Linked DNA regions of Homo sapiens. The protein of the gene in region 3 purifies or fractionates together with the protein of the main gene of each other region. This does not show direct contact. Each region holds a gene or a part of one and is shown on either strand. Other genes may lie near its edges.

Region 1 (3,498 bases), on a different chromosome or scaffold from region 3:
GGAGGCTCATGGGAGAGACCTTGTGGCCTGAGAGCATGTGACCCCAGACGCCCGCGGGTCCTCGGTGGCCCCTAGGCTGCATCCATGGGGGAGGCCTGCAGTGGGTGGCCAGGTCTTCTCATAGAGGGGCTCCTCTGGTCCTCCTGACACATCAGTCGGGAACACAAGCTCTAGGGGCCTCAGTGCCTGCGGGGAGGCTGTGTTCTCTCCATCTCAGTACAGGGCTGCACGCTGGGCTGGCCTGGGAGGACGGTGCACGCCCTGGGCCATGGCTTCCTAAAGCGAAGGGAGCCAGCAGGGGGTGACACCATAGGGCGTCAGAGCTGGTGGCTTCTTGGACACCTGCCGGGGGGAGCAGCTGCTGAGCCACGAGGCAGCCCCCTCCCCTGGAATCCATGGGAGAGGGAGCTGGGAGTGCCTACCCAGTCTGGAGTGTCTGGCCCAGACCCAGCCTGGGTCACTCCCAACTGGGGGCACTCAGCCCTGCCCCGGCCAAGTGGCTGGGGGTGGTGGACGCGGCACTTCCCACTCACAGGAAGAATTCACTCAGACAAGGATGAGGAGGGCTTTGCACAGGCATTTACTCCAGGGGATGGCGGGCCACCCCAGCCCCAAAGGGTTAATGCGTCCTGGGGCGTACAGAGCTGGTGACCTTGGGGAAGGCCACACAATGGACTGCTGGAAACCAGTTCTCTCCTCCCACTGTTGCCTGGGGCTACAGACAAAATGAAGGCGAAAAATGCAGGGGTGGGGGCTGGGTGCTGGCAGGGGACCCAGGGGCAGCCAGGCTGTTGCTGGGAGACTCAGTGCGACATGGGCCTGGCGGAGGGCCCCAGGCCTCCTGCAGTGGCACCAGGTGTCCCCATGAGCGGCCGGCACTCAGGCTCACCTTGAGGGGTACCTGCAGGTGGCAGCCAGAGGTGAGCCCCACGCCTGGGCCAGCCACCCCCAGCCACCTCCCAGACCCCAAGCAGGGGGACAGGGCCTACAGCACACAGGTGCACACATCCAGATACATGATCAGACAGCCACACGCACACATGTGCATACACGTGCACACTCACCACACTCGCCCAGCAACAGGCTTATGCCACATCCACCTCCCAGTCACGACACCTCGATCTTGGCGGAGGTTCCCCCACCTGCCAGGGCCTCTGTGCCAGTGGGTAGGCTGCGGCCGGCAGACAAGGTGCCCTTGGATGGGTGGGTGTGTCCTGGGGCATCCTGTGCTTGCCCCTCAGGGTCCTGCCCCCGGGAGGATTGGTGGCTCCTAGAGGCCAGGAGAGCCCTCCCGGGGGTCCCTGACCTTGAGTGGACCAAGCCTTCACAGCTCTTGACAGGGAGGGAGGGGTCCAGCCCCGGCTGCCGTCCCTGTTCACTGAAGTGAGCAGAGTCGGGTGGGGCTTCCCGGGCTTCAGGGACGGTCCAGCCTCCACGGCTGTGCCTGCTGTGGAGTGGCCATCTCGGGGCTGGGGCTGCACCCTTTGGCCTGGCTCTTTTGCCCTGGGGGTGCTGGCCTCCCCTCACCCTGGGCTCCGGAAGACCGGGCAGGCTTAAGTGTCCCCTCACCTGAAGCTGCAGCTCCAATGCCTGCACCTGTTCCAAGGACTCCATGGTCCTCCTGACGAGAGCTAGAGTGCGGAAGAGAGAGGAGGCCCTGCTGGTCTCTTGGCCTTGGGGCCTGGGAGCCGAAGATAAGAGAACTTTCAGGCCCGAGTCCTGCCCCGGCCCCTGAGCCCCCTTGTTTCCTGTGTCCACTCGGTCACCTGAACCAGCTGTGGGACCTTAATGCCCACAAGGAGCCCCTGAGTGCCCAGCCCCTGAGGCTGAGTCCAGCTCCCCCGGCCCCATCCACAGTCCAGGATGCCTCTCGCAGGCCCCTTGGCCCTCGCTGCAGCCCCTCCTCCTGGCCTGGCCCACCACACTGCACTGGCCCTCACCCCTACCCCTCCGGCTCAGCTCACCCCAGCTGGGGGCCATGGGGTGGGGCAGGCGTCATGCCAGCTCTGTTCCAGAGCCACTGGGGCTGGGAGGATGGGGGAGGCACAGGGAGCCCCCACCAGCCAGAGCCACCAGGCACACAAGAACCCCCCATCCCCACTACTGCCCGGTGAAGTTTGAGGCAACAGTGGCTTTGTGCCACAGGCAGGCTGACCCCGTTGTTGGGGCGTGGATCACCATGCAGCAGTGGGGCTCAGAGCCCTACGAAAGGGAAGGCCTGGGCAGGGGCCAGAGGTGGGACCCGCAAGCTCAGGCTTTCTCAGGGCTTGCTCTGAAACCTGGAGCCCCTGGATAAACATTCGTTCAGTCCTTTTGTGCTGTGTGACACTGCAATGCAAAGATGGCGGCAGGAGCCCCAAGCCGTGGTGGGCGCCACCTCACTTTCCAGCCCTGCTGGCCCCAGCAGAGCGAGGGTCTCCCTGGGGACCTGTCCCTGGTGTGTCCTGAGCAGGGCCAGCGGCCACCCAAGCTCTGTGGCCCTCAATGTCTTCTGTGCAGGAGCCGGTCACCGTCTGCAGGGAGCTGTCGGCCAGCAGGTGGGCACACGGCCCATGTGCATGGTGGGGAGCCCTGCAGAAGGACCTGGGCCCCCCTGGGGACCTTCTTATGGGGGCGAGGCTGGAGAGCCGGCCCAGGCCAAGCTGGACCATTGGCTCCTCATGCTGGCTGGGGCTACCCTGAGTATGCAGAGAACTGGTCCCTCTTCTGTGCCTGGTGGGGTGGTGCTGTTGACTGAGCGGGTGATCCCAAGCAACTGCTGCTCAGAGAGGGGCAGCAAGCGTGGGGCTGAGCTGGCACTCAGCTGGAGCGCTCCCTGTGGGGCCCTCGGGAGGGCAGGCAGGGCAGAGATGCTGGGCGCTACACACCGCCTGGGAGATATGACCTGACCCCCAGCCCTTCAGGGATGGTGCAGGCCCCGCCCGACCCCTGGTTCCCCAGGCCCTGCAGTCCCTGGCCCCGAGTGCTCCTGAGAGAGCAGAGCACAGGCTGCAGCCTGCCTCAGGAGCTGCCAGGCCAGCTGGAGGAAGCTGCTCCCGGGAACAAGGCCGTTTGGGAACGTTTTCTTTCCTTTTTTAACCTACAGCTGAGCACACGTTATACTTGTTAAATGGTCACGTAAGGTGGGTGTGTTTTCAAATGAGTGGCTGGACATACTTTTCAAGTGGCAGAGCCCTGCTTTAGGATGGAGTGGTCTGGGTGGGCCCCAGGGATGGGAGCCTCACACCCCTAAGGGTAAGGCCTGGAGAGGGTGGGGCTAGGAGGGCATGGCGACCACCACTCGAGAGTTGGTGCCTGAAGCTTCCAGCCCTGACGCCCCCGTGCCTCTTCTCCCAACACGTGAAGCTGCCCCGGCTGTTTACAGACCTGGCCTGGAGAACTGGGGGCACAGGTCCACGTGGGCACCTGCTCTCGCCTCTCCCCTGTGAGGCCAGAATGGGACCAGTGGCTGGGTGCTGTGGGGAGGCCCCGGCCCTCCCAAGGGAGAGAGAAAGAACC
Region 2 (3,646 bases), on a different chromosome or scaffold from region 3:
GCCCTCCATGAGATTTTATCAGGGTCTCCATCTTGACAGGGTTAGAGTCCATTCTGATTAATGTCCTGCTATTCTTATTGTTAAATATCTTGAATTATCCCTGACCTTATCATATTTCTTTCCCAATCATTAAAGCTGACATCAAATTTAAAATACTGAGAAAAACAGAACTATACTTACGGAAGCTCAGCAAGGCTTTCGAATCCTCCCAAGCTCTCGGCCAGAGTAAATAGCTATAGCAAAGAAAACATGAATTTAGATTTTCTAGTAAAATAAAAATACTAAAATCTAAAAATAAATGTTTTTAGGCCAGGCACAGTGGCTCATGCCTGTAATCCCAGCACTTTGGGAGGCCAAGTCAGGCGGATCACCGAGGTCAGGAGTTCGAGACCAGCCTGGCCAACTAGTGAAACCCCATCTCTACTAAAAATACAAAAATTAGCTGAGCATGGTGGCACGCACCTGTAATCCCAGCTACCTGGAAGGCTGAAGCAGGAGTATCACTTCAACCCAGGAGGTGGAGGTTGCAGTGAGCCGAGATCATGCCACTGAACTCCAGTCTGGGCAAAAGAGTGAAACTCTGCCTAAAAAAAAAAAAAAAAAAAAAAAAATTATTGCATTTGAGACTTTGCTCTGTGGTTACCACTTAAATAAAAAAATCTCTAAATGCTTCCCAAGTTATACATACTTCCTTGTTAATATATATCACTTATGAAATACATCCTTTAAATCCCTGCTGGAATAGGGGAAAAAAAAAAAACCACTGTTTTTATGTTGAGTGTGATAGTGTCATAAAACTTTACAAATGTTTTAAAAGTTACTTTGGTAAATGTATTAAATTAAGGTGACACCAGGAACACTTTGACTAATCTGGCAGCTTTCTGTTAATCTATTCTGTAGTATATAAACTGCATGAGCTCAAGGTTAAGCCCAGTGTATGGAGTTGGACAGGCCTCTTGCTCAAGGCCCCTGAGAGCCTCCTCCTGGCTTTTTGAAAATTAGACAAAGGCCTCACCCCAGTCAGATGCAGCTTAGGAGGCACAGGGTTTGGAAAGCCATTCACAGGATGGATTTTAGAACAGCCCTTGTGCAGTGCACTAACTGCACACTACTTCGAGGTTTTACCTATTTCATCTGAAAAAAGGGGTTCACTTTTAAATAAATGCATTAGAATACTCTGTGTCTCCAAACTGATTGTAGTATGTGGAGAGTTAAGTAAGTGAACATATTTAGATGTCTGCTACATTGTTGTTTAAGTTGTTTTCAACCCAATGCATTTCATGATAAAGAGGTTTATGAGTGTAACCTGCAGATACAAAAACATTATCTGGCTTGAGTAGAAGTGAGAGATAGTGAACTGCTGTAAGGCCTTACCTCCTACAATTTTAAACCTATTTTGTAAGTTTACCTTTAGGTTCTTGAGGAAAATCTCAGCATGCTGAAGAGTGCCCTTAATATAAAAGGTGACCATCCCTGTACAACCTGTACACTGACGCTTCACCAACTCATGCTGTGGATGAGAGGGCAGCCCTGTAATCATAAGGTATCATAAGTCTTATTTTAGAATTAAACATGTAATTTTTGGGGGGGGAGGGTGGTATTTTTCACTGTCTACTTAACTGCAAATAAGCCTAAGACGAGGATTATGCCATGCTCACATCTGACTACTTGCTTGGGCCCCTATCTCTCCAGCTTCATGTTGCCTCATCTTTTCTACCCTCTTCAGCTTTCTTTATGCCAGCACCACTGCACTCCCTTTCATCTCAGGACCTTTGCACATGCTGTCCCTTCAACCTGGACTTCCCTTGTTAATTATATCCTGTAATTTCTTGCTTAGTATCTGTCTTAGCCACCAGAGTTGCTCCATGAGGGCAAATCCATTTCTTTTGTTACTAATTGGATCCCAGTTCCTAGTGCAAAGCCTGGCTCATAGCTGGCGTTTAATAAAAATTTCTTGAATAAATCTCCAATACCTTGTCTATGCCCTTTTAACCAATGCTGCCCATTCTTCATGGCATAGCTCAAAACTCTTCTCTCTCCCTCCATCCAAAATATATATCAATCAACAGCTCTTTACCTAAAGTACCTTTAGGGCATTTAGTTTCATATGTATTTCGCTTTGGTTTCTCTAAATTCCTTGTGAATTTCCTAGTGAAATTCCAGTCTTAATTTTTCTATATATTCTAGATGCTAGAACCCTCAAAAGGATCTAAAAAGAAAAGAACTACTTAGGACCACCACAGCTTAAAAGACTGGTAAAAATAAATTCAAAAAGTAAGATGTAAGTCAGCCAACTCCACAGAAGACTTTCTAGATGCTGGAAGAGGTGAAGGAATAAAAATACAGGAGAGAAATACAGGAGAGAACCTCAGGGGGCTGGGCGTAGTGGCTCACGCCTGTAATCCCAGCACTTTGAGAGGCCAAGGCAGGCAGATCACCTGAGGTCAGGAGTTCGAGACCAGACTGGCCAACATGGTGAAACCCCGTCTTTACTAAAAATACAAAAAATAGCTGGGCGTGGTGGCGGGCACCTGTAATCCCAGCTACTCGGGAGGCTGAGGCAAGAGAATCACTTGAACCCGGGAGGCAGAGGTTGCAGTGAGCTGAAATTGCATCATTGCACTCCAGCCTGGGCAAGAGTGAAACTCCGTCTCAAAAAAAAAAAAAAAAAAAAAGAGAGAGAGAGAACCTCAGGGGAATTTTAGCACCTAATATCAAGTCTCAACTGGGACAAACCTCTATCAGATTAAAGTGACAGCTAATGCTGAATAGCAGACAGACAAGATTATAAGCAAATCAACTGAAAAGTCTAATGTTAAAATCTTTGAATAGGTATACACAAGCCTTCAAATCACAGACCACCACAGGAACAACTAATGCATAAAACTGATTTTCTACTATCCAAGCATCCACTAAACTAGAGGCAATACAACAGTAGAGACCAGGTCTATCTTCTTTCCACCTGACCCACCACAGAGCCTGACACATGGCAGTGCTCAATAATAAATGAACAAAAACAATACGTGAAAGCACCTAACTTACAAATAAATGTTACATAAACACGATGCTCAGGATAACTGCTGAAATCCTAGTAGATCTGCTTAGAAATCAAATTAACATACCAGGATAAATAACCTTTTCTACCCAAGGATTAGATTCCAGGAACTGGGCAACTGCCATTCCGTTTTTGAAATGCTTTTCCATTCGGACATGTAGAGTCTTCAGACCTCGATTGCAGAGGTAACAATCAATAGGAGATGGAACTGCTCCAAGAGCTGCAAAATGAACACATCCTGGATAAGTTTGAAGGCAGGGTATGGCCAAGAAATTATCTGGCTTCTCTTTTCCATTACAGTGACTCTCAGAAGCTAGGTGTAAAGCTCAATGTTTGAGTTCTAGGAGGAAAATAATATATCAAATCAGAAGCAGAAGAACAAAGCATAGAATATGCTTAGAGAAATTTACTTTAAAATGAGGGGAAGCAAATATGCTGAAAACTAAGTAAAAGCACAATGATATAAACTTCTCAAATATGAAGATAAGTAGTCCTTTCTATGATTTTAATAAAATCATAAATTGTTCATAGCCTAACCTTGTATTTCTTTGAAAAATTATTTTAACATACAGAGAAAAACAGCAGTTCAAG
Region 3 (4,136 bases):
TAGTAAGTATAACATCCTAAGGAAGAAACACTTTGTTCAAGAACCGGCAAAATGACTATGGGACTGGGGTAGGTTGCTGAAAGTCAGTCACCTAGTAAGAGGTAACGTTAGAAGCTGGCAGCTGCCAAATCATGCTATGCCCTGATGGCGACTAAGATTCAAATGTAAGTGGTTCACAGGATGCTTTTAGAGGACACTAAGCAAGAAAGTGACAATCTGATTTACATTTTTAAAAAGATCCCTCTGGTTGTCAAGGTGAATCCCTAGGGAACAGTCAGGGAGCAAGAGAAATAAACCAGTAAAGGCACTATGGAAACACTCCAACCAAGAGATAATGGAACTTAGACTAGGATTCATGTACTGTTTATAAGTAGATGCTAACAGAAGAGCCTGCAACCTAATTGCCTCTAAAGAGCCTTTTTAATATCCCTTTTCCCGTCTCGTCTCCTGACTTGCCTTTGGAAAAAAATAAGATTATTTTTTAATGTCCATGTTAACGCTTCAGTTGGTGCTATTATAGTAAAAAAAAACTTTTCATTTTTAAATGTTCTGTTTAATATACTCTATGATTAGTAATACGCCACATATACACACCCATACATTCTTGAAAAGCAGAAAGACCCACAATGCTCTTTAGTGTAGGACTTGTTCATTTATTTGGAGACGAGAGGTACCTGTCACCTCTTCTGATTACCTTTCCTCTCACGCTTTGTCTCTAGCACATCCTGGCTCATTCTAGATTGTGAACTGCAATAAACAGGTATACCAAAGGGAATATGTATTTACTGAGCACCTCCTGAGTACCATGGTGTCACTAGATGTCTCACGTTTAAGAACTGATTTAATCCTCAGCTACCCAAGGTGGGAAATGGTATCTTCATTCTACAAACGAGAAAAAATCAGAGATACTAGTAACTTAACTTGTCCAGTCACCAGCTAACAATTTGTAGGGCCAGAAATCTAACCTCCATGTAACTGTGAACTTCCTGTCTTTCCACTACAGCAGCTATCAAAGAAAGTGCTTTCAAATATATATTATATGTAGTCACTGCAACTTCTTATGAATAATGACCAGTTTGTTGCTGGTGAGGACAACGTTTCCTTAATGCTCTTATGTAGAATCAGAGTTTTGAAGTTGCGAGTGGGAAGTTGGAAATGTAGTGATCTTATATATTCAAGCACATTATTTTTTAAAAATTATGTTCTACTTGAGACCTCATAGAAATTAATTTTAAAAGAGCAATTCCCATCTTTACAAAAAAAATTAAATATGTACGGTTTACCGTAAAATAGCGGTTAAGGTTCTACAACAAAAGATAGGAGTTTGGTACAGACTCTACCCTCAAAAGGTCCTACACAGTAAGAGAAGACAGGGCTAAAAAGATAAACGCAACACAGGAAAAGGCGCAAATAGCCTAAGAATTGAATGGAAGAGAGCCTTGTATACTGGAGAATGATTCCTGGAAGAGGAACTTTAGGTGAGCTCTTAAGTGTCCAGTACAGGAAGGCAGGGAACAATACGCAGCACTGGTCCCTGCACGGGCAAACCCAAGAATATGTGTGAAAGGTTGGTGGACAGATAGATGGTTCCCACAGGCTGATTTGCTACATACAGAACTCCATAGAAAGAACCAAGGTTATGGTTGGTCCTACCCTACCTAAACAGGAAATGGCTTATTCTCGGAGACTAAAGTGCCAAGTCCGGAAAGACCAGACAGATACACAGAATTACAGACTGTTACATAAAGTCCTTAATAGTTACAAGCCCTTGTTGTGCTATGTGCTAGTCTGCATTATTTTCACCTAAATGAAACCATTTCTACTTAGTACATGGCGTGAGAAGACGTGGAGATAAAGAGAATTAGCAGACGTATATTATCTGCAATTTATCTTACGGAGGAGTACATTAAGGAGTGTTATGTGAGATTATTTCTTTACAAACTGAGAATAGGTAGGAAGAGCAGCGAAACACAGCGCGGCTCGGTGCGCCCAGAGCGGCGTCACTGTAACAGTACAGAAGTGGGCAAGGGGCTCTCGGAAGGACAGTTGGGGAACGGCGCCCAGCGTATTTAGCGAACGGACAAGCAGCAAGGAAAAACAAGGGAGCAACAACCGCCTTCGGACATTCCGACCGGTTCTGGGATGCACCGGGGACGTCGAAGGCGGGGTGCGGAAAAACGCTGTGGCTGGAGTGCGGGTGGGAGCGGCGGCTCGACCGGGTCGACATTCTACAAACGCTTGTGGAACGAACGCCCGAACGCGCGCGTGAATGAATGGCGCGGAACTGAATGGCCGGCCGAGGCGCCGGCGCAGGAGGAAGGAGTTTGCGGCGCGGTCTGACCGGGCCGGCGGGATGCGGCCGGGCGCGGAGGGAAGGGCCGCTGCGCCAGGGGTCGGCGCGGGGCGGCCCATGGGGCTGGCGGCGGCGCGGGGCCGGCCGCGCCATGACGGAAGGGAAGGGGAGGGGAGGTCACACATTACATAACCCGGCGGCTGCGAGCGTCAGGGGAAGGCGCCGTGGACAGCCCAGGCCGCGACAGGACGGCCGCGGGCCGGGGCCGGGGCGACGCACCCCTCCCCCGCGCCACCTCAGGCCGACCGCGCTCTGGCCGCTGCCGGGCGGGTCTGCGGCGCCTCCGGGCGACGCGTGTCCGATCCCGCCCCTCCCCCACCCCGCCGCCGGCCCGGGGGTCGCTCACCTTCCGCGTTGCCCCAGACCACCATGCCCGGGCCCGGCGGCCTTCTCCGGCCTTGCGGACCCCGGCCCCGCCGCCGCCAGTGCCCTCGCCAGGGACCAGGGAGGAGGGCCGGGGGAAGGCAGCCCCACCGCTGAGCAGCGCCGCGGTCCACGCTCCCCCACGCTCGCGGCAACCAACCCCGCGCGCGCTCCGCGGTGGCTCTCCGCCCCTCCCCCTCCGGTTAGCGCGCGCGCCGCAGCCACGCCCCCTAGCGTTCCGCGCGCGCTCCCCGGCCCCGCTCGCGCTCACAGCCGCGCGGCGCACGCGCTCTGCTCCCCCCGGCCCGGGGCGACCCCAGCCTCGGGCGTAGCACCGCGGCGCCCGGCGTCGGCCTCCGTGTTCCTCCCCTCCCCGGCCCCGCCCTGTTGTTCTGCAGCCGCCCGCAAGGGGCAGCGCCTGGGCGGCACGTGACCGTCTCGCTAGCTGGGCGGAGGGGAGCGCAGCGCGGGCCCGCCCACGCACTGCGCCGCCTGCCCGCCCGTCCTGCTCCGGTCACCCCCGCGCTTCGTTGACCGGGTCGCGGCTCTTCGGTTGCCATTCGGACAGCGCGCCGCTCCGTGCACAGCGAGTCCCCGCGCCTGCCCCGCCTTGGGGCTCCCCAGTGGGGAAGGACACAAGTGCAGACACTGACCGGGCTTCAAACCCCGGTACTGTGTGAAGATGCGCCAGACGCCCGGGTTCCCTCCTTAAGCAATTGATTTACAGTGACATCTAGTGGAGAAAGGGACACACATGAACTGACATTTTCCTATGTCCAGAGCAACCGAGAACCACGGCCCACTCAGGTTCGCGGGAAGGAGCACTGCGCCACGGCGTTTTCGGGATTCGTGGCCTGCTCCCGCAGGGCACAGACACTATCTTCTGTCCTTTGAGTGCCCGGGCAGCATTGCGCCTGAGTATTTGTAAACGGAGGGCCGGTATCCCATCCCATGTACAGCGCTGGAGTTACCCGAGAAAGCAGTTTTCTATGAATATAAAAATAATATCCTATATTATGTATGCGTAAGTACAATTCTAATTGAGGGCCTTCTAGCAGAAAACAATCCGTCCATAAGGACCACTTTCTCCCTCTTGGCAGGGTCGCTTTGAAGACTCCACATTGTTACATAATAGTCTTTATTGTTGTAATGCACAAACATGAAGATACTTTTTTCCCACTCATTCCCTTGCCTAAAATGCTTCAGAGTTTGCAGGTACTTAGGAAACAATCAGTATTCTTTTGAAAACTGATTTGCAGAGTTGGAACTTGTTTACTAGCAACACAGAGAATACTCAAATAGCTCATTTCTTTCCCTTTCAGTTTTTTGCCATTTTATAGACTTCTATAAATGCACTTCAACTTCAGTATTCTCGTCGCTAATCCAACGAATTTAGATTGCATACTTTTCAAAGACGTCA

Evidence for each region.
Region 1: the proteins of REV1 (region 3) and POLN purify together in Homo sapiens (affinity purification with western blotting, with the first as the bait; one study listed by BioGRID). This does not show direct contact.
Region 2: the proteins of REV1 (region 3) and CTH purify together in Homo sapiens (affinity purification with western blotting; one study listed by BioGRID). This does not show direct contact.

What each region holds. Positions count from the first base shown.
Region 1 is NC_000004.12:2,071,399-2,074,896, forward strand, and holds the end of POLN (DNA polymerase nu), read right to left. Parts: intron 1,632-3,498; coding exon 1,570-1,631; intron 902-1,569; coding exon 716-901; 3' UTR 520-715; downstream 1-519. UniProt on the Homo sapiens protein: DNA polymerase with very low fidelity that catalyzes considerable misincorporation by inserting dTTP opposite a G template, and dGTP opposite a T template. Is the least accurate of the DNA polymerase A family (i.e. POLG, POLN and POLQ).
Region 2 is NC_000001.11:70,431,712-70,435,357, reverse strand, and holds part of CTH (cystathionine gamma-lyase), read right to left. Parts: intron 3,276-3,646; coding exon 3,123-3,275; intron 1,531-3,122; coding exon 1,409-1,530; intron 234-1,408; coding exon 181-233; intron 1-180. UniProt on the Homo sapiens protein: Catalyzes the last step in the trans-sulfuration pathway from L-methionine to L-cysteine in a pyridoxal-5'-phosphate (PLP)-dependent manner, which consists on cleaving the L,L-cystathionine molecule into L-cysteine, ammonia and 2-oxobutanoate.
Region 3 is NC_000002.12:99,487,118-99,491,253, forward strand, and holds the start of REV1 (DNA repair protein REV1), read right to left. Parts: upstream 2,901-4,136; 5' UTR 2,700-2,900; intron 2,295-2,699; exon of another isoform or gene 1-2,294. UniProt on the Homo sapiens protein: Deoxycytidyl transferase involved in DNA repair. Transfers a dCMP residue from dCTP to the 3'-end of a DNA primer in a template-dependent reaction.